Homo sapiens: one gene and its partners. The protein of the gene in region 1 purifies or fractionates together with the protein of each later gene. This does not show direct contact. Each region holds a gene or a part of one and is shown in the gene's direction. Other genes may lie near its edges. The genes, in order: TMEM200A, PPP3CB, PPP3CC and CAMK2G.

Region 1 (8,199 bases):
TTTTCTATGGGCTTATAGGCTGATGGAGAGGGGACTGATAAATGTACCACAGATCACCTGGCAGCTGAGGTGGTCTGAGAGCAGCAGGGGACCAGTGCAGACTGGGAAGCAGCATAGTGGGTTGCAGAGGGACCTGGATGGGGAGTTGTCATCTTGACTGAGTCACTAATTAGGTGGCTGTGGGTAAGTGGCTAAGTTCCTCCACCTTTCTGCTCCTTGGTGCCCTTATCTGCAGAATGAGGGCTTTGGACTGACGATCTTTATGGTCTCTCTTTAAAATGCTGCAAGGCAAATTCTGGCAGAATTAAAGAGAGACAGAAGTCAGTGTGTGTGTGTAGGAGGGTGGTTTGTAGGGTTTTGGTTGAAGGAAGCCAGGCTGGAGGGTCTTGCTAGTTGTATTGAATGGGAAATGGCAAAGAGAAGTAAAAGATGTCTGGCCTGGGACATCTGACCTAACATTGATTATGTGAATTGAAAATACATAATAAAATAATAAAAATACCAGCTTTCACTTAGTACTGGGTGGTTTTCCATGAATTTTCACAAATGATGCAATAGATTTTTGTAACAACCCTCGGAAGTAATTAGAGCAGAAAGGTGATGAAGCTGGGACTAATACTGCAAAGCACATCTGCACCAGTATGCGCCACTGCCTTTCTGCAGGATTTGTAGAGATAGGAGAAGCTAAAGCTCACTTTGGAAACCCTGAGTAAACAGGAGAGAGACATAAGGTTAGGGTCAGATTTTAGGTGAGGTTGAATTTCTGCGTAAGAATTTAGGTTACATTCTGGAACACAGAAGTCTCCAATTACGAGCTCAAGACTTCCTGAAATGCCTTGAATTCTGATTATTGATGTTTAATCTTACTGCTCCTGTTCTGTGCCCACTCCTCCTCTAAGGTCCCCCTTTCCCCAGCAGGAATTCTGGGGCTTTGACTATCACAGAGTAATTGATATGACTCTTCCAAGAGCTTTTAGTGATGCTGGAAAAAGGAAATCCATGCATTTCATATAAAGGCGAGGATTCTGGGGCCACTGTATCATTAATTGATAGGATGTGTTCTGCAAGTTGTGCTTTGGAAACTTTGTCACCAGAGGTGAAATTCCACAGAAGGCATAGAAATCTAGAAAGGTGTAAGATGAGTGTCTGTACATTCCTTCCTGTAGAGCCCTAATCACTCTGCTCTGAGCATGAAGTGCACCAAGGGGGGACAAGTCTCTGCTTACCACCCAACTGTGTGTTCACCACCCCACTTTGTGTTCATGTAGAAGGGAGTTACTCAGGATTCATTTGCTTGCATGTGTGAATATTTAACTAGGTAAAGCAAAAAAGGACTTACTGGCTCATTGGACCAGAAAGTCCAAAGGTGGTCCTTGCTTCAATCATGGCTGGAACTCAGAGACTTACACAACTTTGTCGAGGTTCTTTCTCTCTCTCCCCATTTCTCAGTCCCACTTCTCTCTGGGTCAGCTGTATTCTGAGGCACTCTTTCTGGATATGGAGAAAGATGACTGTGGGTATTTCTAAACCTACATTCCTGGGCTTTTCATCTATGAGAAAAAGAGGTCCTTTCTCTTCCAGGTCCCATTTTTATAAATCTCCTTGAAGGGCTCTGATTGGCCCTGCTCAGTGGTAATTGAATTGGTCTCTGTGTCTAGCAGAGAGTGCTACTCTGATTGTATTGGACTAAATCATGTGCCCAACCCTGTGTATATGTGGTTCTGGTGCTGGGATGAGGAGGAGGAGGCTGGTAGGGCACTATGATAGGCAGTTCTGTCAAGATTACATAGAGTTGTGGTTCTCCCAAGAAAATAATGCTGCCAATCAAAAACAATAGTCTATTATTGGGAATAATTCCTTCCTTTTTTGGGACAGCCCTCTGCACAATGATCTGGAGTTTGCACATGGAAGCAACTCAGGTGCCCAAGACAATGCGTATCCCAAAAGTGGGACCTTTCTCCCAAGCAAGGTATAGCCCAGTGATGAAATAATGCCCTCATGTTTAAACTTTATTAAAAGGAGGATTGTTTCCAGAATGGGAAACACCCATTCTGGAATGAATGGGAAGCCACCATTTATTCATATCTATGTACTTCTAGCAAATATCCCTGTGCCTTATTTCCAGCCCAGAGATTTTGTTTCCAAAAGCCCTGCCCATCTAGTGATGATGAGATTGGATACCCCCTACTTTGGCCATTGTAGAGCCAGTGAAAGTTTGAACAGGGAGCTGAAGTGATTAACACAGAACTATTGTTTATGCAAATACATTGGGTTGTTGGAAATGCACAGAGGGGAGTGGCAGGCACAGATTAGGATTTTCATTTAGGAGGCATAAGATGATAGGTTTCCAATTAGAGTAATGGCAGCAAGAATTTGTGAGCAATATTATGAAGTTCTTATGAGGTTATATGTCAGGATGAAGGAGCATCTTTGTTGACAGAAGCATTTGTGGAATGAAATAGGCCAGGAGGGAGTAGACTAGGAAGACATCCTGGGCCAGTAGGTGAAATGGCTATGCGTGGTAGATAGGTTAATAGCAAATAGATTGTGTAGACAGGAGGCCTGTGGTCACCATGAGTCCTAGGGGCATGTATAGAACTGACATTTACCAAGGATCTACTTAGTATGGTAGGTTCATGTTGCATACTTTAAAGTTATTATATTAATGTTTATATAAAGTCAGGGAGGTAAATAACTTACTGAAGGTTATGAGGCCATTAAGCAGTACAGCTGGAATTCAAACCCTGGCAGTCGGACATCAAAGCCTTGCTTTAACCACTATGCAAAACTACCTCTCAACCTCAAAGTCAAATTCACTGTATCAGGCCAAACTGAAGGACCAGCTAAAGGTTGGCCCTTCTGATAGGAAATGAGAGTGCCAGAATTCCAGGTCAAATAGAAGGCACAGAACAGAGGTTATTAGGGTGAAAGTGGATAACATTCATGCTCAGAGCCAACCTGGACAAGAATGTCAAGGTAAGACATTCTTGGAAAGGAAAGAATATCACATGCATCCATTCTGGATTTAGGGTTTGGGGTATAGCAAGGAAAGGGGATGGGAAAATTATCAGGCAGTTGAACAGATGGGCAGATCAATAGAACAACTGGAGTTTGATTGTTGACCTGAGAACAGGAACTCTACCATCTGCCATGGCTTTAAATATCCTTCCTGGTGTAAGTTGATAAGAATATGGAATGGGCAGCTCCTCAGAGGGAGACAGGATTTTATTAGTTGTCAGGCACTATCAGGGAAGGAGCTAACGTTTGTAAGGCCATGCGCCTTAGATACGTAAGCTCACTAAATCTTCATTATAATTCCAGAAGGGTAAATATTATGCCTCCCCACCATCGCCACTTTTCTTGAGCCAGGAAATGGAGGCTCAGAAGGTTAAGTGACTTGCCCGAGCTCCTGGAGCCAGACTGGAAAGTGAAAGAGCTGGCATGGAACCCAGATCTGTTGGAATCCAGACCTCTTCCTGGATCTTCAGGGAGTCATCCTGGTGCTAGCAGGACAAGGTCAATATCAAGTCTGAGAGATGGAAATGGGGAAATCAGGAGGGGCATATGGTTGTGAAGGAAGACAGTAAGCTAACTTTTAGACATCTGAGTGTGAGATAAGAGCAGACCGTCTGAAGAGAATTGTCCAGCAGGATTATATCTGGCTTTGGCAGAAAACTTAATAATCTAGTAGGTTTTTTCCCCTCAGTACAGGATCTCTATCATTATGCAGGGTAGATACGTCAGCAAGTCAGATGTTTGGAAGGCTTAATTTAAGTCACTGATTTCAGTTCAAGAGAAGGGACCTCTGCCAGCTGCCATGGCCTGAATTTACCTTTATACATACAGATACTCTGCCCTGAAATGTGAAAAAATGAGAAGTAGATACATATAGAGAGGGAGAGAGGACACTCGCTAGCACATGCTGAATGTAGCAGGTTCATGAAACACTCTAGTTACAAAGGTGTGTACTTGAGGATGCTCTAAATAAAATGAGTTACTAATAGAATGTGAGTGACATCATATCGTTCCCCAACAAATACAAGGCCAAATTTGTATCTGCTTAGGTGTGTGACTGGATGTGTGCGCAATTGACTGTGTATGTATGTACAACAAGAGGAAGGGGAATGAGAAGGTGTATAAAAATAGAAGTATTTATGAGAACCTTGTAGCCTATTCGGAGAGGTAAAACAACCATGTGTAAAACTTTTAGAACAACTCAATAGAATAATATGTAAACAAATGGTTACAATGCTTTGAAATAAAGCTGGTAGAGATATGCAAAGAATATTAGAGGCCTGTGACACAAAAGCAATGGTGAATAGGAGTAGGCTCTTTCTTGTAAATAGTGAGCTAATCACAGAGGTGCTGATAGATTAGCAACTGCTGGGGAGAAAAAAAAGTATTTTCCTTTTGAGAATCAACATCTTTGGGCTTAAATGCAGGATGAATCCAAAGAATCTCAGTACTGTCTCTAAGCTGAGGTTGGCATAGGAGAGACACAAATTTTGTTTCCCTTGGCAAAGTAAGTCAGATCGGCTTAGTGAACATACATGTGCAAGTATTTGCAATAAAATGGAGTTAGCATTTCTGAAGAGATGTTGTTAGATTTTCTAATCATAAAGGCGATACACACTCCCAATAAAAACCTTAGAAAAATACATTAAGTATAAAAAGTCAGGGAGAAAATTTGCCTGTAATCCTATGACCCAAAGGCACTCATAACATTTTGGCATTTTCTTTCTCCTTATTTTTAATGATTTTTTCCATAATGCTTAATAGTGTATTACAACCTACTCTGTTTGCTTAATCTTATGTCTTAATATTTTCCAACTTCTAGACAAGCTTTATTAATGTCAGTATAATATTGGATTATGTGGACATATCATAATTTATTAACTATTCCCTTAAAATTGAACTTTTAGGCCATTTCCAAATATTTGATATTATAAATGGCACTTTGATGAATCTTTCTTCAAATTTCAGAATCTGTTTTTTGTGCATAAGGGTTATAAATGCATTTATATTCCATTTTATATATGTTTATCAGATTACTTCTTTTAAAAAGATTCGTGGAACGATAATTCCTGGGTCAAAGGGTATGAAAATTTCAGGCTCTTGATACTTAATGCCAAACTGATTTTCAAATAACTGAAGTTATGACTGACAGTGCATGGAACTACCCTTCACATGCTCTCACTAGGTGATTGTTTTTATTTTTAAATTTAAAAAAGCCACCATTTTGAAAAAAAGAATAGTTTATGCTAACTGCTGATTTTGTTCCTTTGTTACCCAAATCTCCCTTTTAGAATGTAGACTATGTAAGATATTGTGATTCATTTCACTTTTAAAAATTTACTTATGTTTCTGAACATGCAGATAGGGGCCCATGATAGAAAAAAGTAGCTTGTGAATGATTTTTTGAAAGCCAGTGTTATACATATCCTGTTTGGGGACTCTTCAGACTCTGCTGTGGAACAGCCCGTGAGAGAAGTTGATTGATGTAGGATGAGAGCCCCTTTTTGCAGAGCTAAACCCCTGACAGCCCCGCCTCTGTAGCCTTGGATATTAGGTCCTAGTAGTCATGGAGTGTTCTAACTGCACTTTTCACTGGGGCTGTAACCCAAGTGAGAGCAGGCCTGTAACTGTTTTGTCCATGGCTATGTCCCTAGCAGATGACCTTAGACAAAGTTTTGCTGGGAGGTGGGATCTGAAAATGCCTGAGTTTTTGTTTTTGTTTTTGTTTTTGTTTTTTTTTTTTCAGACGGAGTCTCGCTCTGTCACCAGTCAGGCTGGAGTGCAGTGGCATGATCTGAGCTCACTGCAATCTCCGCCTCTCAGGTTCAAGCGATTTTCCTCCCTCAACCTCCCGAGTAGCTGGGATTACAGGGGCACACCACCACGCCAGGCTAATTTTTTGTTGTTGTTATTTTTAGTAGAGATGGAGTTTCACCATGTTGGCCAGGCTGGTCTCGAACTCCTGACCTCAGGTAATCCACCCACCTCAGCCTCCCAAAGTACTGGGATTACAAGTGTGAGCAACCTCACCTGGCCATGAAAATGCTTGAGATTTTTCCCCTAGAAAACTTCTATAATGTTAGTCACTGATTGCCCAGAAACAAACTTCCTGAATTTTGAAACTTCTGGTTTTACTCTCTTTTCCAAAGAAAATTCAACCACATCACAGTACCTAGTTTTATGGCAATGAACTTTGACTTATTCCAGAAGAGGAATTTGGATCTTACACATACCTCTGCAGGGTATTTTATTGTCTAAAAACACTTACTGAGAGTAAAGGGAACTATTAAACTTACAGTAGCAGTCAATTTGAGGTGGTTTTTGAGTGCCAATTTCAATTTTTCCACAACTATTATATTCCTACAAAAATAATTTACAACTAAAATAAAAAATGTTTTGGTTTTCTTCTAAAAGTTGAAGGATATTATTCTATTGTAATAACTCTATTCTCCTTTATGGATCTCAGTCAGTAATTTTGAACAAAATTATTTTCGTTCATTTGTTCAACAAATGATTATTTAGAGAGATTCATTCAGCAGGTGCTGTTAAATTATATTATGACTCATTTTGTCAAATATGAGACAGATCTTCTTACACAACAATAACGCAGAACACTGTGTAGGAATTTATGCCTATACATTTATTTACTTACTTATAAGACACATAAAATCTCTTATAACATGCGTTAAAAAGTAAACTTGGCTCAGGAGAAGGTTTATTAATTAATAAAGGATTCATTAAATATTTGTGCTGCCAGCTGGGGATCCAGTAATGACCAAAACAAAAAGTTATGGAGGAGCTTACATTGTAAATGGAGGACACAAACAGGAAACATATAAATGAGCAAGGCAATTTCAGGCATTCAAAAAGTGCTGTAAGGGAAGTCAAGAAATCTGATGTCATAGAGAGTGCATGCGCTCATTTAGATCAGATGGTCAAGGAAGACCTCTCTGCATTTGAGGCATTTAAGCTACAACCTGCGAGAGAATGAGGAGCCAGCCTCACATATTTGGGGAGGGGGCATTGGAGTAGGTTTTATACTCAGTGCACTGGAAAGCCATTAGAAGGTTGCTCTTTTGGAGCATGATGTTTGAGGTCATTTATTAAAAATGAGTGTTGAGATGAAGAGTGCAAAGTATTACCTCACTGTAATGATGATATTGGTATTGGGAGCAAAAACAATGCTCACATTAGAGACTATATGTAGTTATGGTCAAGATATGTCATATATCACTATATGGCTGAAGACATTTCATATACAGTATGTCTCCCTACAAAGGGGTTTTAATATAAATATAACGTAAATATATTTAATAAATTTATAAATATAACTAAATATAAATAGCAATTTCAAAAGAATATATAGAGCTTAGTAAGTCCACCACAGAGTTTTTGTTATGTGAACTTGTATTCTTTAACTGAGCCTAGCATATTGACTTGTACATTATATACATTTGATAAATGTTGCGGAATTAACCATGTGGAATATTCTACTTGTAAGAAAAAAAATTAACCTCGGATATAAAATCACATTAATTATTTTCAAATTTATTTGTTATCACATTAAATAATTATCACATTCAATTAATTAATTATTTTTTGAGAGAGGGTCTCACTCTGTCACCCAGGCTGGAGTGCAGTGATGTGATTTTGGCTCACTGCAACCTCTGCCTCCTGGGTTCAAGCGATTCTTATGCTGGGACTCCACAAGTAGCCTCCCAAGTAGCTGGAACTACAGGCACACATCACCATGCCTGGCTAATTTTTGTATTTTTAGTAGAGATGAGGTTTCACCATGTTGGCCAGGCTGGGCTTGAACTCCTGATCTCACACAATCCATCTGTCCTTGGGACTCACAAAGTGCTGGGACTACAGGTGTGAGCCACTGCACCCAGCAAAATCACACAAAACAGTATTTTTATGAAAATACTAAGCCTTTTCTTTGAAAAGGAAAGAGATAATATGTTCCTTATACTCTAAGTATTAACAGTAATTTTAAATTGTATTCAAAATGCTAAAATTGAAATATTGAAAAATAAAAAATACACAAGTATAATCATCGTCTTCCTCACATACATTTTTTTTTCTCCCTGGTTAAGTAGGAATCTCTGGAAAGTCCACATTTTAGATAAAGATTTTATTAATATCACTTGGTCTTATCACACTTTACTTGACTTGTGGAAA
Region 2 (8,199 bases), on another chromosome or scaffold:
CGATCTCGGCCCACTGCAGCCTCCACCTCCTGGGTTCAAGTGATTCTTGTTCCTCACCCATTGAGTCTCTGGGATTACAGGTGCACACCAGCATGCCTGGCTAATTTTTGTATTTTTAGTAGAGACAGTGTTCTGCCATGTTGGCCAGACTGGTCTCAAACTCCTGGCCTCAAGCGATCTGCCTGCTTTGGCCTGTCAAAGTGCTGGGATTACAGGCGTGAGCCACCGTGCCTGGCCTGTTTTTAGAGATTTGACTGACTTATTTTTAACAATACGTGATGACTTTTCTGTCATCCAAAATAATTTTAGAGAGCAAATATTTTGCTTCATAAGACATAACATCATCGAGAATAATTTTAGAGAGAGCAAATATTTTGTCTTCATAAGACAGATAACTTTGCATATTTTTGTTGATTCTTATAGGGGAAGATGCTTTCCTTAAAAAAATTGTGTGCAGTAAGATTTATTCTCTGTGGTATTTACTTCTGTGACTTTTGACACTGCATAGAGTTGCCCACTACCACTATCATGATACAGAAAAGTTTTATCATGCCATAAGTTCTCTCTTGCTACCTTTTTATAGTCACCCCTTCACTCACTCTGAAGCCCTGGCCACCACTTTGCTGTTTACTGTCTATAATTTTCTTGCCATCTGTCTGTCTGTCTGTCTGGGCTATTACTACAGTTGAAACTGTAACTATCTCAATTTCATTATAAATAGCTATAAGATATAAAGGAGGGGAGAGAACAAGAAATAAAAATCTAATATATATGTTTTTAAAATGGTCACACCACCACCAGTAATGTAATTTTCAATTAGTTTTTTGTTTTTCTAGGTAAAATTAAGTATTCGGAAAGAGTCTATGAAGCTTGTATGGAAGCTTTTGATAGTTTGCCTCTTGCTGCACTTTTAAACCAACAGTTTCTTTGTGTTCATGGTGGACTTTCACCAGAAATACACACACTGGATGATATTAGGAGAGTAAGTATATATTTTACTTCCGAGATTGATTTCTATTTATAGTACATTGTTGAGTAGAGCAGAAGTTTCAAACTTCACTTCACTGCCAAGATTAGGTAATAGTAAAAATTAGTATACTGATATCTTAAGGAAATAACTTCTGTTTATTCACAATAATATAGTATGAACTGTATTCAAAGTTGGTATCGTTTTCCTATGCACATTTTATCCTTACTTTTTGATGAGTTACTTCTGTTCTTTCTTTTCTTTCTTTCACAGTTAGATAGATTCAAAGAGCCACCTGCATTTGGACCAATGTGTGACTTGTTATGGTCCGATCCTTCTGAAGATTTTGGAAATGAAAAATCACAGGAACATTTTAGTCACAATACAGTTCGAGGATGTTCTTATTTTTATAAGTAAGGAAAAATATCCAAGATTAATCACATTTTAGTTGTTAACATAGCATATGCTTCATACAGAAAAGCCATTATTTTACTTAATTTACTCTTTTTCCCCCACAGCTATCCAGCAGTGTGTGAATTTTTGCAAAACAATAATTTGTTATCGATTATTAGAGCTCATGAAGCTCAAGATGCAGGGTAAGAATTCTGTTTCCCTGACCCAAATTAACACCTAAAATATAAATCAAACTTAGTAACCATGATTGATGCTTTACGATGCATATTAAGCTATTTGTTTTGCAGCTATAGAATGTACAGAAAAAGTCAAACTACAGGGTTCCCTTCATTAATAACAATTTTTTCGGCACCTAATTACTTAGATGTCTACAATAATAAAGGTAAGATATTGTTGATAAAAAAAATTGTTAAACAACTTAGTATTTTAATTGACTTTTTTTAATATAATAAAAAAGGGGTGTTGTTTGAAACTATTAGTATCCAGATTTCTTTATAAATAACTGTAAGATGGAGGGGAGAGAACAATAAATAAAAATCCAAAATGTGAAACTAAGTAATATGTAACCCCATTCCACAACTTGTCTCTTGGAAAAGCCATTTTGTAAAACGTGCTCTGAGTTAAGTGCATCAAGCAAAACCAAACATGATTTTCTCAAACTCCCCTTTCTTAAATCTTTTCCCTTATTGAGGATGTTTTCTTATTTGTATAAAGCTGCTGCTGCTTTGATGATTTTATTTGCACTGTCTACTTGTTTAGTTTATCATGTTTCTTGTTTTATGTTCACTGATCTAGGTTCTCTTTCCCTTTCTTATTTCCTTCTTTTACCTCCACAGTCTTATCACTGCCCCATGAAGATTTGTATTTGAGCTTTTTTTTAATTAATTCAGTTTCATCTCATTTGAGGGATACATTCTTCTCTTTATTTTTACTGCTTTTTTCCTTTGCCTTCCGTTCCAGAGATTTTCATTTCCCCACCTTCCCTGAAAATTTGACCTGTCTATAGTAATTGGATTTCATTTTATTTTGAATACAGTTTATTGACAGAAAGTGCCAAAGGGTCTTAATCTAGTTAAGTGTGTGCCAAGGACATTGAAGATGAGATTGGGTATGTTTATGTAGTTTACATCTTTGGAAGATGATATTAAGAGGCCAGCTTCTCTTCTGTCTTGACATGTCTGGAATTCAGTTGACTATGCCATAGCTTCAGGATCAGACTGGAGTGGATGTGCCAAGAGGAAAGAACAGAAGGTTAAAGACTTTAAAAAGGACATTTAGAGAGAGAATGAGGTCATTGCTAAATAAGGGTCATGGTGTAAGTTCAAAAGAGGAACAGAGGAAGTTTTTTTGGATGATGAGAGGTGATGGTTAAAAGATTAAAACACTTGCCTGAGACCAAACAGTAGCATGCTGGATAACTTGGGTACAGAATATGCTACAAGAACTTACACTATAGATATCTTATGAAATATGACTTCATTTTTGAGAAGAAACATATCTAAGTTTTGATTCCATTCTTTCTCTCTCTAGACAGGGTCTCGCTCTGTTGCCCAGGCTGGAATGCAGTGGTGCAGTCTCGGCCGACTGCTACATCTGCATCCTGGGTTCAAGCAATTCTCTTGCCTCAGCCCTCCCTAATAGCTGGGATCATAGGCACCCGCCACCTCGCCCAGCTAATTTTTATATTTTTATAGAATGAGGTTTCACCATGTTCACCAGGCTTGTCTTGAACTCCTGACTTCAAGTGATCTGCCTGCCTCAGCCTCCCAAAGTGCTGCGATTATAGGCCTGAGCCACTGCGCCCCTGCCCTGATTCCATTCTCAAAAACAGAACCAAGTGTTAAATTTAACTTTCTACCAGTGCTCTAATTCCTCAACTGTGACTTCCTCTTGTTAATATTAAGGGAGCTAGTGTTCAGTGTCCAGTTGAGTACTGCCTTACTGATTGTCCTTTGTTGGTTTGACTCAGGAGGTTAAGGGATGGATTTTTTTTAGCACTTAGAAAAGAGGCTCAAACCATTGACTGTCTTATCAAAAATCAGATGTCTCTTTGTAGTCCTGAGTCTGTACATAAATAGTGTTAATGGTTTGAGTGTTTACGTTGTATGGGTATGTTTGTAATTTTTCATTCTATCCATAAGGCAATTTTCTAGATTTTTCTCTCTTTTATCCCTTACAAAAGATCTGAAAGCTTGGTATCAGCTCATAATTTTTGAGACTAATTTAAAATACTCTTTTTTCCCACTTTGAACTGATTGTCAAAACATATAATTTAAAATACTTTTATTTCAGATGGGAATTTCATATGGGAAACAAACATATACTTATTAAGTTAGTAAACAGTAACATGTAGCAGGATTACTTTTGATTCTCTATTAGCCACAATCACAAATGTTGGAATTTAACATCTGCATTTCAGTGCTTTTCATTAAAATGAAAAAAAAGTAACCATAAAATTATATCTACAAGACATTTTATACTTTTATGTATTTTCATGTGAAATGCATTGTCTGATCTTAAACTTCTGTGGTAGGCAGGGTAGACATATTAGTCCTGTTTTATAAATGAGAAACACATTAGTTGAATAATTTACCAAGCATTGCACAGCTAGTATGTGCTATAGTTTAGATGAGAATCCAGCCCTTCTAACCCAGTGTTCTATACAGTAATATAACCAGTAACTGAAATCTATGTAGGTCATTTAAGATTTTAATTATATCAACATATTGAAACATTAGATACCTGCATTTGAGATGAAAATGTTATCTCTGGATTGTTTGGTTATAATATTCTCTTTTGGTGTTTTAGTAGGATTTTTTTTCTAAACAAAGTAAAATATTTCTTTGTAGTAATTTTGTCTGATTTTCCATATTAAATGAAACAAATACATTCATACATTTATAAGTAAAATGTTCCAAATGGGTGGGATTTTTTTGTTTGCTTTATTACCATTCAGCTATCCTTTTCAGGTTGCCTGAAGCTAGAAAGATCTTAAATTCTCAATTTGTTTGAACTTTAAAAACCTAGAAAATTGCTCATTGCCATTCTGTGTTTCCTCTAAAAACTGAGTTTTCACAATTTTGGATTTAGTAAAAATGTATGTTCATCATTGGATTATAAAGTAAAACAAACATTCTGGAAAGAATCTGGAAATTTCATTAGTAATGTGAAGACCTGACTATAGTTATAGTTCTACATAACAGTGTTAAAAACAAAACCTATGTTATTATTAAAAATTAGTTCCTTCCTCCCTCTACCAGCCCTGATTCCACTCACCCCCGATCTCCCTTCCTCTTAATATTTTTCTGCTTTTATGTATTTTATATTTTTAAGGCTAATGACAAATAGTTACTTATCTATTAAGTTATTGATGTTCAACTTATCTTGCAGCTGCTGTATTAAAGTATGAAAATAATGTGATGAATATTCGACAGTTTAACTGTTCTCCACATCCTTACTGGTTGCCTAATTTTATGGATGTCTTCACGTGGTCTTTACCGTTTGTTGGAGAAAAAGGTATAATTTTTATTTTTAAAAAAAATTTGTTTTATTACTGTTACATTTACTCCAGTTTACTATCATAGGCACATACTTGCTAAAGGAAACCAAAGTCTAGTTTCACTGTGGTTACAGCTCTCCTTGTGTCAGTGGGTGTGGACATAAGAGTCTCAAAGATATTTTAGTTAGCTGTTTACAGCCCCCATGTGAGGCTGTCTGGGGGACTGGGAGAAGATTTATAAATAGCCCAATGTCTTCAGCTGTTGGATTTTCTTTTTTTTTTTTTCTTTAGCTTAAATCTTTTATGAAGGGGTGGAGAGATTGCTTTGCTTGAAATGGGCCCTTCTGCATATCTTAACACCATTTTTGGGCATTCCACCGAAATTCTTGGGGAAATTTAGTAGCCTTCATTTTAGCAATATTAGTCATTTTAATAGCTGTTCTATACTTTAAGAGAAATCATAAAGAGAAATTCAGATTGTAACCCAATATTCCTTCTCTTATATAAAAAATATGTATAAAATTTTAGTAGTGATGCCTTTCTAATTTAGAGGAACACTTGTTAGTACATAATAGGCTTTTTGAGAGAAAATAAATGCTATTTAAGAAATTCTGTTTCTGTGTTTCATTTGTAGTTCTATAGAATTCTTAGGATTTTGTTACCTATCATGTTCTTTTCCATTTTAAGTTAATTTTTTTCATAAGAAAATGCCTCAGTTTCCATATGTGGAAAATGACATTATGAGAGTACAGACATGATTATAAAACATTTTGTTCAGTATCCCCCTCTATTTTTTCTCACCTCTTCCATATTACAAAATGTTCCTTTCTGTATGAGATACGTCACTTCTGCCAAGGCAATTTGTAGTTCTGAAATTCAGAATTAATACTTAAACTGTGTATGTTAAACAGGTTTTCTGCAGATTGCATTTGGTGTTCTTCATTTACTCAGTAGGTCCAATGTTAATACGGAGATAGAATTACCCTTTAGCATTTGAGAAGGGGGCCAGTTAAGGGCTTAGGTGCAAGGGATGCATTACACTTACAACCTTCTATCTTTGGTGTATGAGAAATAGTTCAATCATAGCATCATCAGATGAATTAAATAATTCATCCTGCTCACTCTCCTGCCTTCAGGCTAGACTGCAACTCAACTGTTTTAATGTAATATGGGAAGGATGGAGGGGCCAGGAAGATAAGGTAGGAGGAAAATGGACATTTCATAGATTCTAATTTGATTCTCTGATAGTCCCACATAAGGAAATATTTCGTTATATCTAATCTAAATATTTATGCTATGAGTATTTAAACAAGGAAAGAAATAGAGATAATAGGTTTTTCTCAACTAATGCACCTGTCAAAAACCAGGGCATCATAGGGTTTTAGAGCTCATAAGTGGATATAACAGTCATTTAGCCCAACTCCTTTTGAGAGATGAGATAATTTAAGATGAATTCTGTGGATCCCTTACAAGTGAAGATGGAGAACAGTAGGCTTTTATCAGTATTCCTGTATTTGAGGTCTGGTACTAAGTGATCTTTAGTTTTTCCATTGCCACTCTAAATCATCTTTTATAAACAAAGAAATATTCAAACTTTTTGACCATTTTTGTTGTTTTTCTTTAGATCTTCTCTAAATTATTCACATCTCTCTAAAAATGTAAAGCTCAGATTTTAACATTACATGCAAATAGAATTCTAGCCAGTGTTGAGCACAGTAAGAAAATCTTCTCAAACTCTTTGCATATTTTGCTATTTTAATACATGATGGCTGTTTAGATAGCCTGACTACTTCTTGATGGTAATGAGCATTTTCTTTTGGTGTGAAAAGCAGCAAGTGACATTTGTTTTACTTCGAAGAAGCCAGCTGGACTCTGGGTCTAGTTCCTGAGAAGCAGGAACTAACCTAAGCCAGAGGCTTCCTGAAAGGCTGATTTAATCCCAAAATTAGGCGAAAGCAGTGTTTCCTTACCCTTTTGGGAGCTAAAACCCCCACTATTTTTTTTTATAGAGACAGAGTCTCGCTCTGTCACACAGACTAGAGTGCAGTGGTGCCATCATAGCCCACAGCAGCCTTGAACTCCTGGGCTTATGTAATCCTCCTGCCTTGGGCTTGTAAAGCACTGAGATTATAGGTGTGAGCCACTGCACCTAGCCAAGAACCCCTTTTCTGTTTCACTAAAAATATTCCTACATTGGCCTGTAGTCCCAGCTGCTAGGGAGGCTAAGGCAGGAGGATCACTTGAGCCCAGGAGTTTGAGAATACACTGTACAACAATCAAACATCTGAATAGCCACTGCACCCCAGCCTAGACAATATAGCAAAACCCTGTCTCTAAAGAAGTAAAATAACTTACATTGGGAAATTTTCAACATACACCAAGGTAGAGTGAATAATATGAATTTCCTATATACCAATTATTCATCTTCAACAATTATCAAATCATAGCCAATCTTGTATCATTTATGTCCCCATCCAGTACTCCCCACCTCATACCTCAATTATTTTGAAACAAATCTCAACTCTTTTCTATCTATAAATACTTTAGAATATATTTCTAAAAGATAAAGAGTCACATTTTAAAAGTACAAATAAAAACATTTATTAATTTTTTTTTTTTTTTTGAGGCACAGTCTCATTCAGTTGCCCAGGCTGGAATGCAGTCTCATTCTATTGCCCAGGCACAATCTCAGCTCACTGCAACGTCCATCCCCCGGGTTTAAGTGATTCTCATGCCTCAGCCTCCTGAGTAGTGGGATTACAGGCATGCTGTACCACACCTGGCTAATTTTTGTATATTTAGTAGAGACGGGGTTTCACCATGTTGGCCAGGCTGGTCTCAAACTCCTGGCCTCAAGGGCTCTGTTTGCCTCAACTTCCTAAAGTGCTGGGATTACAGGTGTGAGCCACTGCCAAAAACGTTTATTAATTTCTTAATATAGAATCCCTTTGAGAATCTGATAAAAGTTATGGACTTTTGCTTCAGAAAAATTCATGTATAAATGTATGTACTCACAACATTTTCAGGATGGTCATAGTTCTGAAATGAATTTGCAACCTTCACACTTATTGGCCCTCCTTTAAGAACCTCTGTTCTAGAGGATCTAATATTATATGATCTTCCATAGAAGGTCATACATGTAAGATTTATTTATTGACTAGATTTTTTTTAAGTGTTTTATTCAAGGTACCAAGGAAATACAGATACAAGTAAGATGGGTCTTTGCAGATTAATGTGGGACCTGTGATATATATAAATAATGATAATAAGATGTAATATGGTAAGTGCTCCAAGACAAGCGTAGTTTTATAGGAATTGA
Region 3 (7,747 bases), on another chromosome or scaffold:
AAACAACCCAGATGTCCATCAGTAGCAGACTACATAAATAAATTGTATTCCGAAATATAAATAAATAAACTGTATTCTATTTATACAATGGAATAATACTCAGCAATAAAAAATAACACATTATGGACACATGCTACAACATGGTTGAATCTCATAGACATTACAGAAAACTGCAAAAGCCAGACATAAAAGAGCACAGACTGTCTGATTTATATAATATTTAAGAACCATTGGACTAATCAGTGATAATAAAGTCAGAATGTCACTTCCTCTGGTGGGAGAATATTGTCCCAGAAGGGCACAGGGAACATCTAGAGTGTTAGGAATGTTCTGTATCATTATCATGGTGGTAGTTAGACATGCGTATACTTATGTAAGAATGTGTTGAGCTGTACACTTCAGATTTGTGCACCTGCTGTGCCTCGTGTATATTTTGTACCTTAAAGAAAACAGTTTGAGGGGGTTGCAGTTTCTCAATCAGAGAGGGAGTTTGCCTCTTTCCCTGCAGCCATATTCTATTCCAGTGCCAAAATCACCTCTTCAATCAGAGTACCAATTCTGAAATTTACCCAGGAGCTGACTTCTTAGGAAAGGGCTTTCTGGAATCCCGGAATGAAAAGGTTGATGTTCGTGAGAATAAACATGCAAGGGGAAGAGACAGGAGATCATATTACTGGGTGACTAACACTAGGTATGAAAATTGGTATTGAAGCATTAATATCTTAAACTAAAGTTTAACTGCTTTTTTTGCTCCCCTTGTTTTGTTGAATTGTTTCTATTTAGTTTTTTTCCCACCTCATCGTTCATCTGGCCTTTTTTCTTTTTCTTTTTTTTTCCCAAGAGACAGAGTTGCCCAGGCTAGAATGTAATGGCTAGGTACTGTCATAGCTCATGGCAGCGCCCGGTTGCTGGGCTCCAGCAATCCCCCTGCCTCAGCTACTCGAGTGGCTGGGACTACAGGCATGTGCCACTGTGCCTGGCCATCCTGCCATTTATAGGAGTCCTTTTTCTTTTGTAGAAATTTCATTGCTATTGACTAACAGGGACAAACCCATTTTTTTTCTTTTCTTGGAGACAGAGTCTTGGTCTGTTGCCCACGCTGGAGTGCAGTGGCACGATCTTGCCTCACTGCAATCTCCGCCTCCCAGGTTCAAGCAATTCTCCTGCCTCAGCCTCCCAAGTAGTTGGAACTACAGGCGTACACCGCCATGCCCGGATAATTTTTTATATTTTAGTAGAGATGGGGTTTCACCATGTTGCCCAGGCTGGTCTGGAACTCCTGAGGTCAGGCAATATGCCCGCCTCAGCCTCCCAAAGTGCTAGGATTACAGGCGTGAGCCACCGTGCCCAGCCCTTTTTTCTTTTTATAAGATTGAATTCCTCCTTCTCTTTCAAATAGAATACTGAGATATTAGAGTTCAGCTATTTAGAAGGAAGTCTGAACATTTTCTCTTTGGAAGTATAGTTTATTTTCCTAGTTCCTTTAGTTTCACAGAAAGTATCAGTAAACTATTTCCGATTGAATATTTTTCTCAAATAAATGTGCAGTTTTTTGTGAGCAGAATATGTTCCCACCATTGCTTTGCTTGGTAATTAGTCATCTGAGATATTCCGAGAGCAACTCTGACAACAAAGATAGAGTAATAGGCAGTAACATGAGTTAAGAGAAAAAAAGGAATGTCCTATAGCATCCTTAGGTAAACATTATGAAAATTTGCTGATCCACAAAATTGTTTTAATTGAAACCAACTTTGTCTAAACCTTGAGAAAGCAAATCTGCAAATCAGGGCTGAGCAACAGAATTATATAGCTATGTTATTTGGAAATTTGTTTCTAATTCTTGGTCACCTTTTGGGCTCAGCCCCAAAGTATGAGTTGAATATGAGTGTTTTAATCAAGATAGGACCATTGATTGATACTTCCAAAGTTGATAGAAATCTTCAGTAATGTGTGAGAACAAAGGTAAAGTTGGAGCCAACTTTTTAGAGTTTCTTATTCTTATTGATTCACAGGAAGTGAGTTTATTTTGTTATTTTCACATTGGAGTCTCAGTTCCACCAGCTCATTGGCTAACTGGAGCATTAACTAAAAAAGACCTTTTATTGTTCATATAACTTAACTTGGAGAGCTTTCAACCAACAGTATCCCATATGGCCATGTAACATACATTCATGTATGTCTCACCTTGATCTAAGAGGGATTGGCGTGAGTTACAGTATACATGAAACATAGTGGAGTAAAATAAATATGCTTGGAAATTGAAGCACAAAGGTAAATAAAAATAAAGCCAATAGCCACAAATTTGACTCTAAGCATCCCAGTAGCCAAAATAGTGGGGAAAGCCAAGGACAGGACAAGATTCACAAAGACCATCAGATTAAAACAGATCAGTTATAAATTGGACTACATCAAAATTAAAAACTCTGTACTGCAAATGGTACTATCAAGAAAATGAAAAGACATCCCACAGAATGGTTGAAAATGTTTTCAAATCATATATCTCCTAAGAGATTGGTATCTAGAAAATATACTCTTACAACTGAATAAGAAGACAACCCAGTTAAAAATGGGTAAAGAATTGAATTGACATTTTTCCCATGAAGACATACAAATGGCACATGAAATGATGTTTGACATCATTAGACATTCAGAAAATGCTAATCAAAACCACAATGGGATACCACTTCACAGTCAGTAGGATGGCTGTGAAAAGACAGCAGTTAATAAGAAGTGTTGATGAGAATGTGGAGAAATTGGGACCTTCTTAACACTGCTGGTGGAAATGTAAAATGGTACAGCTGCTTTGGAAAACATTCTGACAGGTCTTCAAATGATTAAACATAGAATTGACTTATTACTCAGCAATTCCAGTCATAGCTACATACCCCACAAAGAAATGAAAATATGTCCTCGCAAAAACTTGTACACAAATGTTCATAAATGGCATTCAACATAATAGCCAAAAAGCAGAAAAAAGCAATTGTCCATAAACTGGATAAACAAAATGTGGTAAACGCAATGGAATACTATTCAGCCATAAAAAGGAATTAAATGCAGGTATACATGTCAACATGACTGAACCTTGAAAACATTATGCTAAGTGAAAGAAGTCAGTCACTACAGACCACATATTATATGATGCCACTCATTTGAAATGTCCAGAACAGACCAATCTAGAGAGAAAGTAGATTCGTGTTCAACCAGGATTAAGGGGAAGAGGTGAGGGAAGGAAATGGGAAGTGAGTGCTAATAAGTGGGGGATTTCTCATTGGGGCAATGAAAATATTCTAAGCACAGATTGTGGTGATGGTTGCACAGCTCTACTATATTAAAACCATTGACTTGTATACTTTAAACAAGTGAGTTTTGTGGTATATGAATTCTATTTCAGTTAAGATGTTAAAAAGGAAAACAAAAGTTCGGGTCATTTGATATGACTGTTTCTTATAATGGCCCTTACTGCAGGCTGCTATCTTTATACCCAATGTGAATAGCAATTCTGGGAGGGCCCCAAACAAGGTAATATCATACACATTTTACCGTGTAGCTTTTAAGCTCTAATTAGACCAACACTCAGTGTAGAGTTTCAGCAATGCTTTGTTCTCCCACTTCCTAACAGTTACATCAGTGATGTGCTGTGAGAAGGCACTGTAGCTTTCTTGTCAAGGGTATTTGTTCTACTTAAGGAGATTAGAGAGGGTGTGACAGTGATTTAATACATGCCTGCCTATGGTTGACAAATGAAAGCACTTCATAAGTAGATTTCAGTTATCCATTTTTCACATTCCATTAGGTAGTTAATGTAGTTCTTTCAGTTTCTCTTCTCATATTGATATATAAAGCCTTGGGAATAGCAGCAAACTGTTACTGCTCATTATTCTTCACTGCCTTCTTTTGGCAAATTGGTACTGGAGTAACTGACAGGGTTCTCCTAATAGGATCTTTCTTGTGGCACCCTGTACCTTTTCATATATTAGCGTTTTTACTGTCTGAGAAAGGAGATGCAAGGAAGTTTACCTGTTGGTACTAATTTTTAAGTTGCTTCCTTTTCCATTGCTAAGAAAGAAGAGGGCTTTCTTAGTTACTGGCCAACTCTCTTGAACACTGTATGGAAGCCATATGGATTGGAAACATTAGCCTCTGCTATATTTTTATAGCAGATGGGTACACACATTTGCATTAGGAATTCAATAGTTCTATGCTTTTGTTAGCTTTGTACTCCACTCCTGGACAAGAAATAACCCTTCACATGGAACCTATTTTTCTCTCCTTCCAAATGCCAGTCTGCTGTTCAAAGGCCACTCTTTTTTTTTTAAATGAAGTAATTAATAGGGCAGTTGGACTCCAAATAAGTCACTTGAGAGCAGTAAGATGTAGTTGTAAATAAGCTTTTTGAATAGGACCCAGCAGTAGCTCATTTAATATCACCTGAGATATTTTACAAACTAAGGATTGTTGTGATGTCAAACTATTTGATTCTACATGTTGTTTCGATACGTGGATATCAAGATATAAAGTAGCAGTTGGCTACCTAAAATGAAAAGAGCAATGTTCCATGGCACCTGAAATGTTAAAAATATTAGAAACTCTCCCCCACCCCATATTCCTCCCACCCCAATTGAGTCTCTCGCAATAATCTTCTCGCTTCTCTAACTAGTTGACTTTCATTATGGATGGGGATAGGCTAAAAAACGGGCCCCTGGGATGGCTGTGCTGCCATCAGTGCTGTTGGTTTACTCACTCTTTTTCTGTCTTCGTTTTTGCATGCTACTGCTCCTGCCCTCTTACAGCCACAGTAGAAGCGGTAGAGGCCCGGGAAGGTATGGCCATATTACTCTGATAGATGTGATCCATGTGTCTGTGTACTGGTTTTTCGAAGCTTTATCAACATTTCAAATATTTTATTATTGCATCACCAGAACTATAACAGTGAGAAAAGGTATAGTTGTTTCTAGGCATGTTAACGAAGCAGGTGTTTCCTTTGTGTCCTATCTTTGCATTAATTTTAAATAACCTTCACCACAGCTACAGTTTTTTTTCTGGGCTCTATCAGCTTTAATGCAACGGCAGAAGCTTAAGCAACTGGTCATGAGAGGTCAAGTGGTTTACTTCTGTATCCCTTCCATGTACAAGAGACATCCATTTGATTCTCAAGAGAGCCAAATAGGTCAGCCTCTTCAGCGATTCTAAAAGATTTCAAGAGCAGAGGCAGAAGTAGACTGGAATTTAGTTCAATTCATTTCTGAGGTTGCCCTAAGGTAGGCAAGTTAAATTAACTTTGTTTCTATGAAAACCATTGGAACTGATAAACTTGTATTATACTTGTAATTGTTTTATTAGGTAAGATGGTTCAAAACGCGAATGCCTTAACTTGGTGTTATAAAAGTTGAATCGGAAGGAAAATATGTAGAAGCTATTTTTAAGTTTTTAACTTATGTACAGCTCCTGGTTGTGCAAGATAGAAAGCTGTCCTAAACGAAAAGATTAGCTCTTTTGTTACTTTTTTTTGTGGTCTATGTGGCCTTTGTGCGAAAAGCAACTACCCTGGGTTTAACTTGTTCAATTATTCTAGTGTTGCCTTTGTTCTAGCATTGAGTATGTTTCTGGTGCATAAGACACTCTTTCTTAAAGGTACTGGGGCCCAGTAAGTACTTGTTAGCTTTTTGTTAGGTATATGTCTACCATGATTATGCATATAGAGCTTTTATGAAAATTACTTTCACAATTTCAGCTGCCCTTTGGGCTTTAAGGAAGCAGTAGCTGCAGCCAAGACTGATTCAGTCAGACATTGCCCATGACTTTCACTAGACGTGTGCTCCATAGCCACCTTTCTGTGTGTTTCTCTAGGAGGTTGCTGTGTGCTAAGAAACTTTTTTTAAGCCTGTTGCTTTGCTGCCTAATTGAGCTCTCTCCACCTGCTTCCTGTTTTTCTGTAGCCATCAGAGGGTTCTCGCTTCAGCACAAGATCCGGAGTTTTGAAGAAGCGCGAGGTCTGGACCGAATTAATGAGCGAATGCCACCCCGAAAGGATAGCATACACGCTGGTGGGCCAATGAAATCTGTAACCTCAGCACACTCACATGCTGCGCACAGGAGCGACCAAGGGAAGAAAGCCCATTCATGACTTAGAGTCCTGCCGTGGCTCAGGTGGATCTAAAACTCAAGAACAAATTCTATTTATTTATTATTGGAAAATGAAAAGCAACTCAAAACAACTTCAACGTGGAGGTGCATTTATAATTCAGTCTGCATTTATTCTGTAAAAAGGTGGCTGTTTTATAAATTCTTTTAATTTATGTTCAATATATATAAAAAGTGCATCTGTTTTGTTTTTCCCTTTTTTCTCCATAATTTTAAGAAATGAATCTGATTGTTGTCAACACATTTGTGAAGTCTTGTGCTATAAAGGGGAACTTCCCCTAATAAAAGGGCCTTGGAAACCTCAAACCTGGGTTTCTGACTTGAACTAGTCAGTCTTCATTATTGTTTTTTGGAAGGTAATGTCTTTCATGTAAGACTAATAACGTTTCAAATGCAAGAAGATTTTTTTCCTTTTCATTTTTTTCCTTTTCTGCTGGGTGCCATTGAAGAAAGTCCTCTTAGATTTCAGTGGCTAAAAGTGCTTCCCTTTTGATGGGAAACTGGATCATAGTAGAACTTCAAAGTGAATAACCCAAATCCAGTGATTTTAAGGGCGAAGGGAAATGTTTTCTATAATAACCTACTTTCTCTGGACTCTCAGTTCGTTTAAATATGTTCTAGTAAACAAAATAAAAAATAATAAGGGATGTTCTTAGATTTACTTAAAATCTGTTCATCTGACCATGGGCATGATTGGTTTAAATTTCCTTAGGACTTTGGAGGAGAAAGATTTTCAGAAAGCTTTCACAATTGCCAGATTATTTTACTTTCATTTTTGAACCCCAGGTGACTTCTGTAAAGGAAGTCACTTTCTAAATATTTGATAAATGCCCTCAGCAGCACCTTCTACAACAAGATGTATATATGCCCTTCTAGGCTGTTGGCATCAGCTCTCGCATGTGCCTTCCCATCATCCTTCTGTTGTTCCCTGTCAGTATTACTGAAACCAGCTGGGGTAGTAGAAACTGACAAGAGTTCAATGGTCCCCTTGTGAATTGAAGGTCTTGCTAAAGAACATTGGATAAGTGAGGATTTCCTGTCTTCTATATCAGTTACTCTTTAGGTTGAATGGTATTTCAGCCTTCATTAGCATATTTTGGAATGCGAAAAGCAAGTGTTCAGATGTAGTGTGTGAATTATCTTCCCTTAGTTTGATTTTCAAGTCACAACCAACTAGTGAAGGAAATTTTGGGGCTACTTAGGCTCCCATTTTAACTAGCCTCATCGCAGGAGCCGTGTCATAATAGTCATTGGTCAGCTCTGCAGTGAATGTACATGCCTGGGAACATTACATCAGAGCATGGAACGTGCACATTTATGGCATTCCTTAGTGTCATTTGTGATGCGGCAGTCTAGCACTAAAGCAAGTATTTCAGACAGTAATACTTCATATTGGGAGTTTCCAGGAAACCAGAAAAACAAAGAACAACATAATTTTGGTGGTGTTTTTTTTTTTCCCCAAAAAACCATACTTCTCATTAGAAGAATGAAGACTTAGCCCATCTATCTCTGTTTTCCTATACCTTTTTTTCTAACAGTTTCTGATTTGTTTATGGCAGAAATCAAGGCACTCTTAGGGAATGGAATCTGCCTGCATAGATTGCTC
Region 4 (8,199 bases), on another chromosome or scaffold:
TGGAGGGTCAGGGCCTGTCTTTCACACCTTGAACCTACACTCTCTGAACTTCCTATTGGGTACTTGCCAAACTCACCTCATCTGATAGGTGTAGACCCAGCAATGTGTGAAGTGCTCTGGGAACAGGTCTGGTGAGTACAGAGGTCAGATCTCGGAGGGCTGCAGGGTGCAGCTGGGGGACAAAGGTTGTGAAACTCAGAGAAAGGAATTAGGGCTGGGCAGTAGGATGCCATAAATATATTAGGAGCCAGGACACATGCCCTGGGGAAGACATGGGCTTTGGCCAATAATGACACGGGTTTCTCTGGGATAAGAGACATAATAGATGTCCCAAATGCTTAGAGAAGCTCTACAATTCCACGGGCTTCTGTCGTGTTGGCAGTTGTTCTGGGACCTGTTTAGCAGGGCCGTGTCCACTCCCTGACTGGGGACTCTCTCTCCATCCCTCTAGTAGGGCACTAATTGCTGACTCCCATCCAGCTCCATCTCTTGCTGTTCGTGTACATTGCCTATAAAGTTGGACTTGTTTGTTTTCTTTCTCTCTGGGTACCTTGAGTCTGAGGATGGTTGCCATAGAGATATGTGGGCAGTCAGATACCCTGGAGTGGGGGTGGGGGGGACAACAGGGGCTGGGCTCTCTGGCAGACATCCTCTGGCCAAGGATGGAAGGTGCAGGCAGGAACAATGGCTTGAGGCTGGATACCTCTCTTGCCCACACAGCAGAGCCCTGGTGCATCAGAAACAGGGCTGGCATCTGGTGTCTCCAGTTGATGATGCAATGCTTTGCTCTCTTCATCTCACCAGTGTCCTCTGACCCATGGGTAAGAGAAGGAGAGATGGCTGGGAGCCGAATTCTGGGATGTGAGGATAGGTGATGTGGTGACTTCCTGCAGCTGCCTGACTGGGGCTTTCATTTCCTACTCCTTCCCTACCTGCGTAAATTTCCATGACCTGTGTGATAGCCTCCCTTTCCCTTCCTCACCTCCTTTTAACCTTGTCCCATCTTTCCCAATGGATATCTTTCCCTGGCCAAACTGGATGAGACTTGATTTCTCGTTGATTTTTTTTTTTTTCCCCTCAAGAAGAGGATTCTTGTGTAAAAGTATATGCTTCAGACAGCAACTCCCCCTCTCCCAAGATGGATATGCCAAGACTGGGCTCTGTTGTGTGGCCTCATGTGCCAGGTTGACTTTGGGACAGAGGCACAGATGATAGGCACAGATGCCAGCCAGAGGGGTCAGAATGTGTAAGTGCCAGCCAGTACTGTGTGGAGGTGGGAAAGTGGAAAGGGGCTGTCTTGGAGATGGAGGGAACAAGGTGGGGCTGGACTATAGGTGTGGGCATGGGAGATGTGAACTCCTGGAGAGATCTGGGCCAGGGTAGCCATGGGCTGGTTCCCATGGGGTTAGGGAGTGAGGGCCATGGCTTCCCTGCAGACTCTCAGTTTACACTATATATTTTATAAAGGTGCAGCCACTGGAGCTGGGTTTCACTCATCGCTGTCTGCCTAGGTCTCCGCAGGTGTTGGATTTCTGTGTCTGGGAATGTCGTGGGCCCACCAGGGTCATCTGTGAAGGTCTGAAGGGGCTTGCTGTGTTCACTGGGTCTTCCTGCCTCCTGTCTTTCTTGTTTGTGATTCTCTGGGCTACAAACTGAAAAGATAAAAAGAGGGTATAGAGCTGTTTCTCCTTGGCATCCCTGGTGAGGTGGCTAGGAGTCAGGGAGAGGGATCACCTGTTCTTCTGGGGGGGTCCAATCGAGACAGGAAGCCTTCTTTTGGGCTGTTGTGTCTTGTCACTGTGGCCTCAGAGGCCCACATTGGCGGCTAGGTTGCAAGGTGGGGAGTTCATGCGGATATGCGTTGAGCACTGTCTTTGTCTGCGGGCCTGTCTACATAAAGTCACTGAAAGTCACATAACGTCACTCCGTTTGCTTCAGAACCGTGATAGGAGTGGAGCTGGGCTCTTAAGGGAGCCCATGGTTCCAAGCTTAGCTCCACTAGGCCGAAGGAGGCATTTAAAATAGGCTTGGATGCAGGAGCTAGTGGGCCAGGTGATGGCAATGATAAGTCGTTATTTTAAGATTTAAGAGCACCCCCCTCAAGGAGCCTGAGCCCTTATGTCTTTTTTTATTTTTAAATCTTCATATTCCCTTCTTATCTTTATTCATATGCATACAGATTTTCACCTCGTGGAGCATAACATTTTATATCCTGCTCTCTTTGCTTATATCCAAAGCATTTCCCCCATATTACTACAGTTGAAGGGCAAATGGTCCTTTCTTCTACGTCGTTTAGGATTTATCCCTAAAACAATCAGCATCACAAGAAACTTCTGTATATGTACCATTTATCTGGATTCCAGTTGCTTTTACCAAGATAGATACTGGGGTAATGCCCTTGGCCTTACTAAGAGATGCTACCGGAAACAGTGTTTTGAAATCTGTTATAATACTTTAACATATTTATTTAATCTGTACATTCCGTGTGAAGAAATTTCTTTTGAAGCTAAATGTAAGCAAAAGCTTTCCTCTTTGTGAGGACCTGAGAGGTGAGGGAAGGGTCCTTATGTGTTTCTATACTTCTGCATGGGCAGGCCCTAGCGAAGTGCCTGACGTATGCCAGCCACATACACATTAAATGAATGGGTCAAGAGGACTATGTAACCAATCATGGTTGCCTTTTGGCTTTGGCTCCTAGGAAACTCAGAGTCAAGTTGCCAGAGCCCTTGTACCCTGCTACAGACTTGGGTCCTCCCTTTCTGATCCAGGGAGCCAAGCTGCAGACCTGATACGGCTGCTGGAAGAGAGGACAGATGAGGATAAAGACCTGTGCTTGGGGCATAAGGCAGAGTGGGAGATGTAGGCAGACATTTAGCTGATGATTCCTCCTTCCCTGTCACTAAATGGCACTATAGGGCCACTGTTGGGATCTCTTCCAGGTAGTGATTTTCAATTTTAGTGTGCGTAAGGATCACCCTGAGTACTAGTTTAAAAAATACAGACTTCTGGGCTTTAGCCACAGAGATTCTGCTTTAGGAGGTCTAGGGTGGAGCTGCAGAATCTGCATTTTTAACACATGCTCCAGTGAATTTCATGCAGGTGAGGCATGAGCCACTCTTTAAGAGATGCCACCTAAAATCTGCAACAACAGTTGCTCTTGCCATGCCCTCTGGAATTCAACAGACACACCTTGGCCCATCCTTCTCCAGATTGTGTGTCTGCCACTATGTGGCCATCTGTGCACATGGGCTGTTCTGTGATTAGGGGCCTCGTTCTGGGCCTCGGGATTGGGGTGTCTGTGTCTGAGGCTGCGGCAAGCTGGGTGGCTCGGGTTGTGGCATGTTGGCCACCAGAAGGGTAAAGGCTGTCCCTTTCTGGGTCCAGCTGGCCCTGGGGACTGAAATGGGATCCCCTGGATGGTGCCAGCTGAGAGTCCCCGCCCCCTTAGTGTTGGCCTGAGTAGCCCCCATGACATTTGTGTCCCCTGTGGTATCTCCAAGTGAGACTTTCCTGTTAAGGATCTGGGTGAAGTGAGGGAAAGAGAAGGGAGGGGGAAGCAGTAATGCAGGGAGTGGGAGAAGGAAGAGAAATCCACACAGCACTGGAACACAGGCCTCGAGGAAGCATTTAAGGAGGCTGTGTGCGAAACCATGCTTTCCTCCTGAGGATAAAACAGGCCAATTTCTGTAAACAGAGAAATGGGCATCCTGCATATCAGTGATGGAGCGCCTCTACTTTCTCTCCTGAAGGGATGGAAGCCGACTGCAGGTCCCTCTGTGCAAAGGCTTCTGCCAGGCGGCTTTTGTCACGCGGTCACGTTGAGCTGTGGGCCTTAGCACACACAACACTGGCCTGTCCCCCTCCCCTCCCACCTGTCTTCCTAGAGTGACTTGGGGTGCTGCATCATGGTGTGGGGATGGAGGTGGGAAGGTTGCCCTGTCCTGTCAGGGAGGCCCCTGCCTTCTTCCTGCTGCTTCCTCTGGTCCCTTGTCACCATACCCTTGTTCGAAGCTGTGCTGAAACCCTAGAGGTGAGTGGCTGACCCCATTCTCTGCTGAGACTGGAGATAGGGAAGGGGAGGCTGGGTGTGACCATTCCTGCTCCCATCTGTATGCTTGCTGCTCTCTGAACAGCTTTGGCAGACCAACAAGGGCCTGATCCCATGGGTGCCAAAAGGGTGGTGACAGGAGGAGATGGGCACTTTGCACCTCTTGAATGCCTCTCTGCAGAGCCCCTTTGTCACCTACCCATGGCCAGACAGATCTGCCGCAGGACCGCTGGGGAAATCAAAGCACAAAAGCTTTGTCTGGGGTCTTTTTTTTCTTTTTTGGTTTTGTGCTGCAGGTGCCCATGACTTTGCCAGGGCTCAGACCCAGCGTCCTCAGGCCGTGTGGCCTCCACCCACTCCTTGGCGCCTTTCTTTAAAACACAGGTTCTGGATACTTTGTTCCTGTGATGAATCTTGGCATATCACCTCACACCTCTCCATCTAGGCCCCAAGCTCCAAGCCTGGTGGAGCAAATCCCTCCTCGTTGCTGGCTGAGGCCCCATTCCCGTCTGTACCCACCTCTCTGGGCTGTGCGGTGGGGAGATTTCCAGCCACTCCTCCCCAACACCATCTCCGCTTCCTGGGCCCTATCAGCAGCAGCCGCAGCTTCCCATCTGCTCCCCTCTTTTCTCCTCCCTTTCTTTCCCTTCCCCCCTGCTTGCTGCTGCCCTGGGAGGAGCTATTTTTAGGGGCTGCTTCCTGGGATGTTTTACTTGGGGCTGGTTACCATGAAGGAAATGTCACCAAAACAGTGGGCAAAGGCTGCAGGCACCGGGAGCCCTGCCGGGGGGCATGGAGAACAGACGGCTGACCCTTTTCTGGCCCTTGAGAGCAGCCAGAGTGCCCCCAGGCAGAGCCTTGCCTTCTTGGGGCTTGCTAGTGACCCCTTGGGGATTTTCTCTGTCAAAGCTGATTGAGGGCCTTTTCGCTATAGGGCATTTCTTGGAGCCTCTCGCTTCCCTTGCCTTGAGATCCAGAGGCCAAAGTGGGGCTCAGGTCTTTGTGTCACCAAGTTAAAACTGCTTGAGTGAGGGTTGAAGATAAGGGGAGGATGCTGGGTACATGCACAGAGCCTTGGGGGTTCACATGGGACCATTTCAGGCCCCGTCCCTCTGTATCACAGCCCCCAGCTAGTCACCAGGTGTACATGTGTGAGGGCATTAGAAACCATGGTCCTGCTCTTGTGTGTCGGATGGACTTTGCTTTTAATTGGAGACTCTTTGCATCTTTAGAGTGAGATTCAAAGAGGAAGGGATGTGGCATCACAGTGTCAGGGTGAGGTCGGTGGGATCGTGGCTTGGGATTCCCACTGGTCAGTGTCCCAGGCCCAGGGCTGTGCATAAGCAGCTGGGGAAGGTGGATTATGACATCAAATCCCTGCGATGTCCTTGTTTCTGCTCCTCAGAGTGCCAAGGGGACCAGACGGCGGCCTCTGCTGCTTGGGAAGAAGATGAAAGGCACTCAGGAGGGCAGCAAGTGAGGCCGCCTCCCATGGAGCCCTGAAATCAGTGGGGTTGCAGGAAGTTTCTCACATCCATGTTTAGGGTCATAGGCACAGACCTGCAAAATACCCTTTACAAAGTTAAGAATGTCTTTGAGATTGGAACTTGGGAGAGTCCTCAGTCAGAGTAGGAATGTGCATCCTTTCCCACGTACAGAGGATTGTATGTTTACGTGGCAGCAGGATCTTATTTGAAGCTAGTGCTGGCATTTGTGTTTTTTTTTTAGGAAAATGTCACTAAGTCAAGCAGGCCCATCCCTGAGAGGGCCATGGAGAATCTGTGGCCAGCCCTCCCTGGCCCCCTGACCTGGCAGAGGAAGGAAAGGGCATTGGAGTAGGCTTCTGTCTTCAGGCCAGAGGGGGAGGTGGTTCAGGGGCAGGCTTGGTGCACCCCTTGGCTGCAAGCTATCACCTCCCTATCTGCTTCCTCTTTTCTGCCTCCCCTGGTGCATCTGGTCACTTCTTGCTGCCCTTCCTGTGAAATCGTGGCACCTTGGACCAAGTCCTGAAGCACTTGGGCAGAAGGCGGGAGAGGTTGGGTTTCTAGGATCCTTGTTTCCCAGGGCCTGGCTCTGGCCTGGGCTCAGACCACTCTGGTCTAGGCAGGCTGCTGGGGAAAGGCTGGAGCTGCTTCTGCTTTCTGCTCCTGTTGCCACCTCTGCTAATGATGGGGAAAACCTGCAGAGGGCTGTGGTTGGAGCTGGGCTGAAGGCCGGCAGGGGTGGGTCTCTCCATGGCAGTAGCACACAGGCAGGCAGGAAGTGGCCCTGTGCAAAAGCGGGAAGTGGCAGTTGTCAAACAGGAAGGGGGGGGCTGGGCTGTGGGAGGGGCGGGGATGAGCCTGGTAGAAAGGTGCGTGGAGGAGGGTCCACCTTGGAAGGTCTGAGCCTCTCCCTAGTGGTTACTGGAAGGAGGGGTGTCTCAAGGGGAGACACCTTTGCAGCACCTTGAGATGCCGAGCCAGGGCCCTCCCACTGTGGACCAAGCCCATTCAGTGGCCTCGCCCTTTTTGGGGTTGGAGATGCTGCGTCCAGCTGGGATGCCCTTGCTTTTGGGAAAGATGCTCTAGAAACCACTACTCCATCCTGGAACCCCTCTGCTGCCACTGCTGCTGGGATGGACCCTCTGCTTTTTTGCAGCCGTGGGCCAGCCCTGGATGTGACTACAGGACAGGAAGTGTCAGGGGAAGAGACAGGAGACAACAGCTGGAGAGGCTGGGTGGTGGCCGGGCAGTATGTGGCAGCAGGAACGGGGAGAGCGGGGCAGGTAGAAACTGCTCTGTTCATTGAGGAGAGCTTGTGGATGGCAGGGTGCCACGGCTGCGAGGAAGAGGAGGGAAGCGGACAGTGGCACTTCCTGCGGCGTTCCCCTCTCTCTGAGGAGCCCCTGTTGCTGCCCATCACCTGCAGACTGTAGACACAGGTGGGCCCCGCCAAAACAGGGAGGGACACTCCACCTCCAGGACTGCAATGGAGGACCATGTGGGGAGCCCAGAAGCCAGGCAGGAGGGCTTAGTTGCTGTGTTGCAGACCCTGCATCTGCCTGGGCTGAGGGGACAGTGGGTCCCATTCACAGTGTCTCTGGTGATAGCTGTGGCCACAAGCCCAGCCCAGGAGACCCTGTCAAGCTTCTCACTGGGCCCTTGGAAAGGAGCTATATGCCAGACCTTATGCAAAACTCTTGACCTGTACCACCTCAGTTAAACCTCAGATCTTGCTGTCTCTATTTTAGAAGTGAGGAACCTCTTGGCCGGGTGCCGTGGCTCACGCCTGTAATCCCAGCACTTTGGGAGGCCGAGGCAGGCGGATCATAAGGTCAGGAGATCGAGACCATCCTGGCTAACACAGTGAAACCCCGTCTCTACTGAAAAATACAAAAAAATTAGCCGGGCATGGTGATGGGCGCCTGCAGTCCCAGCTACTCGGGAGGCTGAGGCAGGAGAAGGGCGTGAACCTGGGAGGCGGAGCTTGCAGTGAGCCGAGATCATGCCACTGCACTCCAGCCTGGGCAACAGAGTAAGACTCCATCTCAAAAAAAAGCAAAAAAAACAAACAAAAGAAGTGAGGAACCTCTTTCCCAAGATAATGTGCCTGGCTCACTGTCTCACCTACTTTGGGTCCTAATCAAATGTCACCTCCTTACTGAGGCTTTCTTGGACTGCCCTACTCAAATCTGCACTCCCCACTTTCTCTGCTTTTTCTACGCAGCACTTGCCGTGACATCTAACGTGCTGTTGAGTTTTCTTACTGTCCATCCCTCCCCCATACACAACCCACTAGAGTGTCAGCTCCATGAGGGCAGGGATTTTTGTCTGTTTTGTTCGCCACTGTCTTCCTAGCATCTTGAATACTGTCTGTCACATAGTAGGCCTCAGTAAATATTTCTTTTTTTTTTTTGACTTGCTCTGTCACCCCAAGCTGGAGTGTAGTGGCCCAATCTTGGCTCACTGCAGCCTCCACCTCCTGGGTTCTAGTGAGCACATTTGGCTAAATTTTGTATTTTTAGTAGAGATGGGGTTTTGCCATGTTGGCCAGGCTGGTCTTGAACTCCTGACCTCAAGTGATCCACCCACCTTGGCCTCCCAAAGTACTGGACTGGGATTACAGGCGTGACCCACCGCGCCCAGCCACGATAAATATTTCTTGAAGGA

Evidence for each region.
Region 2: the proteins of TMEM200A (region 1) and PPP3CB purify together in Homo sapiens (co-immunoprecipitation; 3 studies listed by BioGRID and IntAct, with this or other methods). This does not show direct contact.
Region 3: the proteins of TMEM200A (region 1) and PPP3CC purify together in Homo sapiens (co-immunoprecipitation; 3 studies listed by BioGRID and IntAct, with this or other methods). This does not show direct contact.
Region 4: the proteins of TMEM200A (region 1) and CAMK2G purify together in Homo sapiens (co-immunoprecipitation; 2 studies listed by BioGRID and IntAct, with this or other methods). This does not show direct contact.

What each region holds. Positions count from the first base shown.
Region 1 is NC_000006.12:130,368,673-130,376,871, forward strand, and holds part of TMEM200A (transmembrane protein 200A), read left to right. Parts: intron 1-8,199.
Region 2 is NC_000010.11:73,464,251-73,472,449, reverse strand, and holds part of PPP3CB (serine/threonine-protein phosphatase 2B catalytic subunit beta isoform), read left to right. Parts: intron 1-836; coding exon 837-982; intron 983-1,240; coding exon 1,241-1,380; intron 1,381-1,485; coding exon 1,486-1,563; intron 1,564-1,668; coding exon 1,669-1,763; intron 1,764-4,771; coding exon 4,772-4,897; intron 4,898-8,199. UniProt on the Homo sapiens protein: Calcium-dependent, calmodulin-stimulated protein phosphatase which plays an essential role in the transduction of intracellular Ca(2+)-mediated signals.
Region 3 is NC_000008.11:22,534,679-22,542,425, forward strand, and holds the end of PPP3CC (serine/threonine-protein phosphatase 2B catalytic subunit gamma isoform), read left to right. Parts: intron 1-4,790; coding exon 4,791-4,820; intron 4,821-5,053; coding exon of another isoform or gene 5,054-5,190; exon of another isoform or gene 5,191-5,258; intron 5,259-5,936; coding exon 5,937-6,124; 3' UTR 6,125-6,447; downstream 6,448-7,747. UniProt on the Homo sapiens protein: Calcium-dependent, calmodulin-stimulated protein phosphatase which plays an essential role in the transduction of intracellular Ca(2+)-mediated signals. Dephosphorylates and activates transcription factor NFATC1.
Region 4 is NC_000010.11:73,864,041-73,872,239, reverse strand, and holds part of CAMK2G (calcium/calmodulin-dependent protein kinase type II subunit gamma), read left to right. Parts: intron 1-8,199.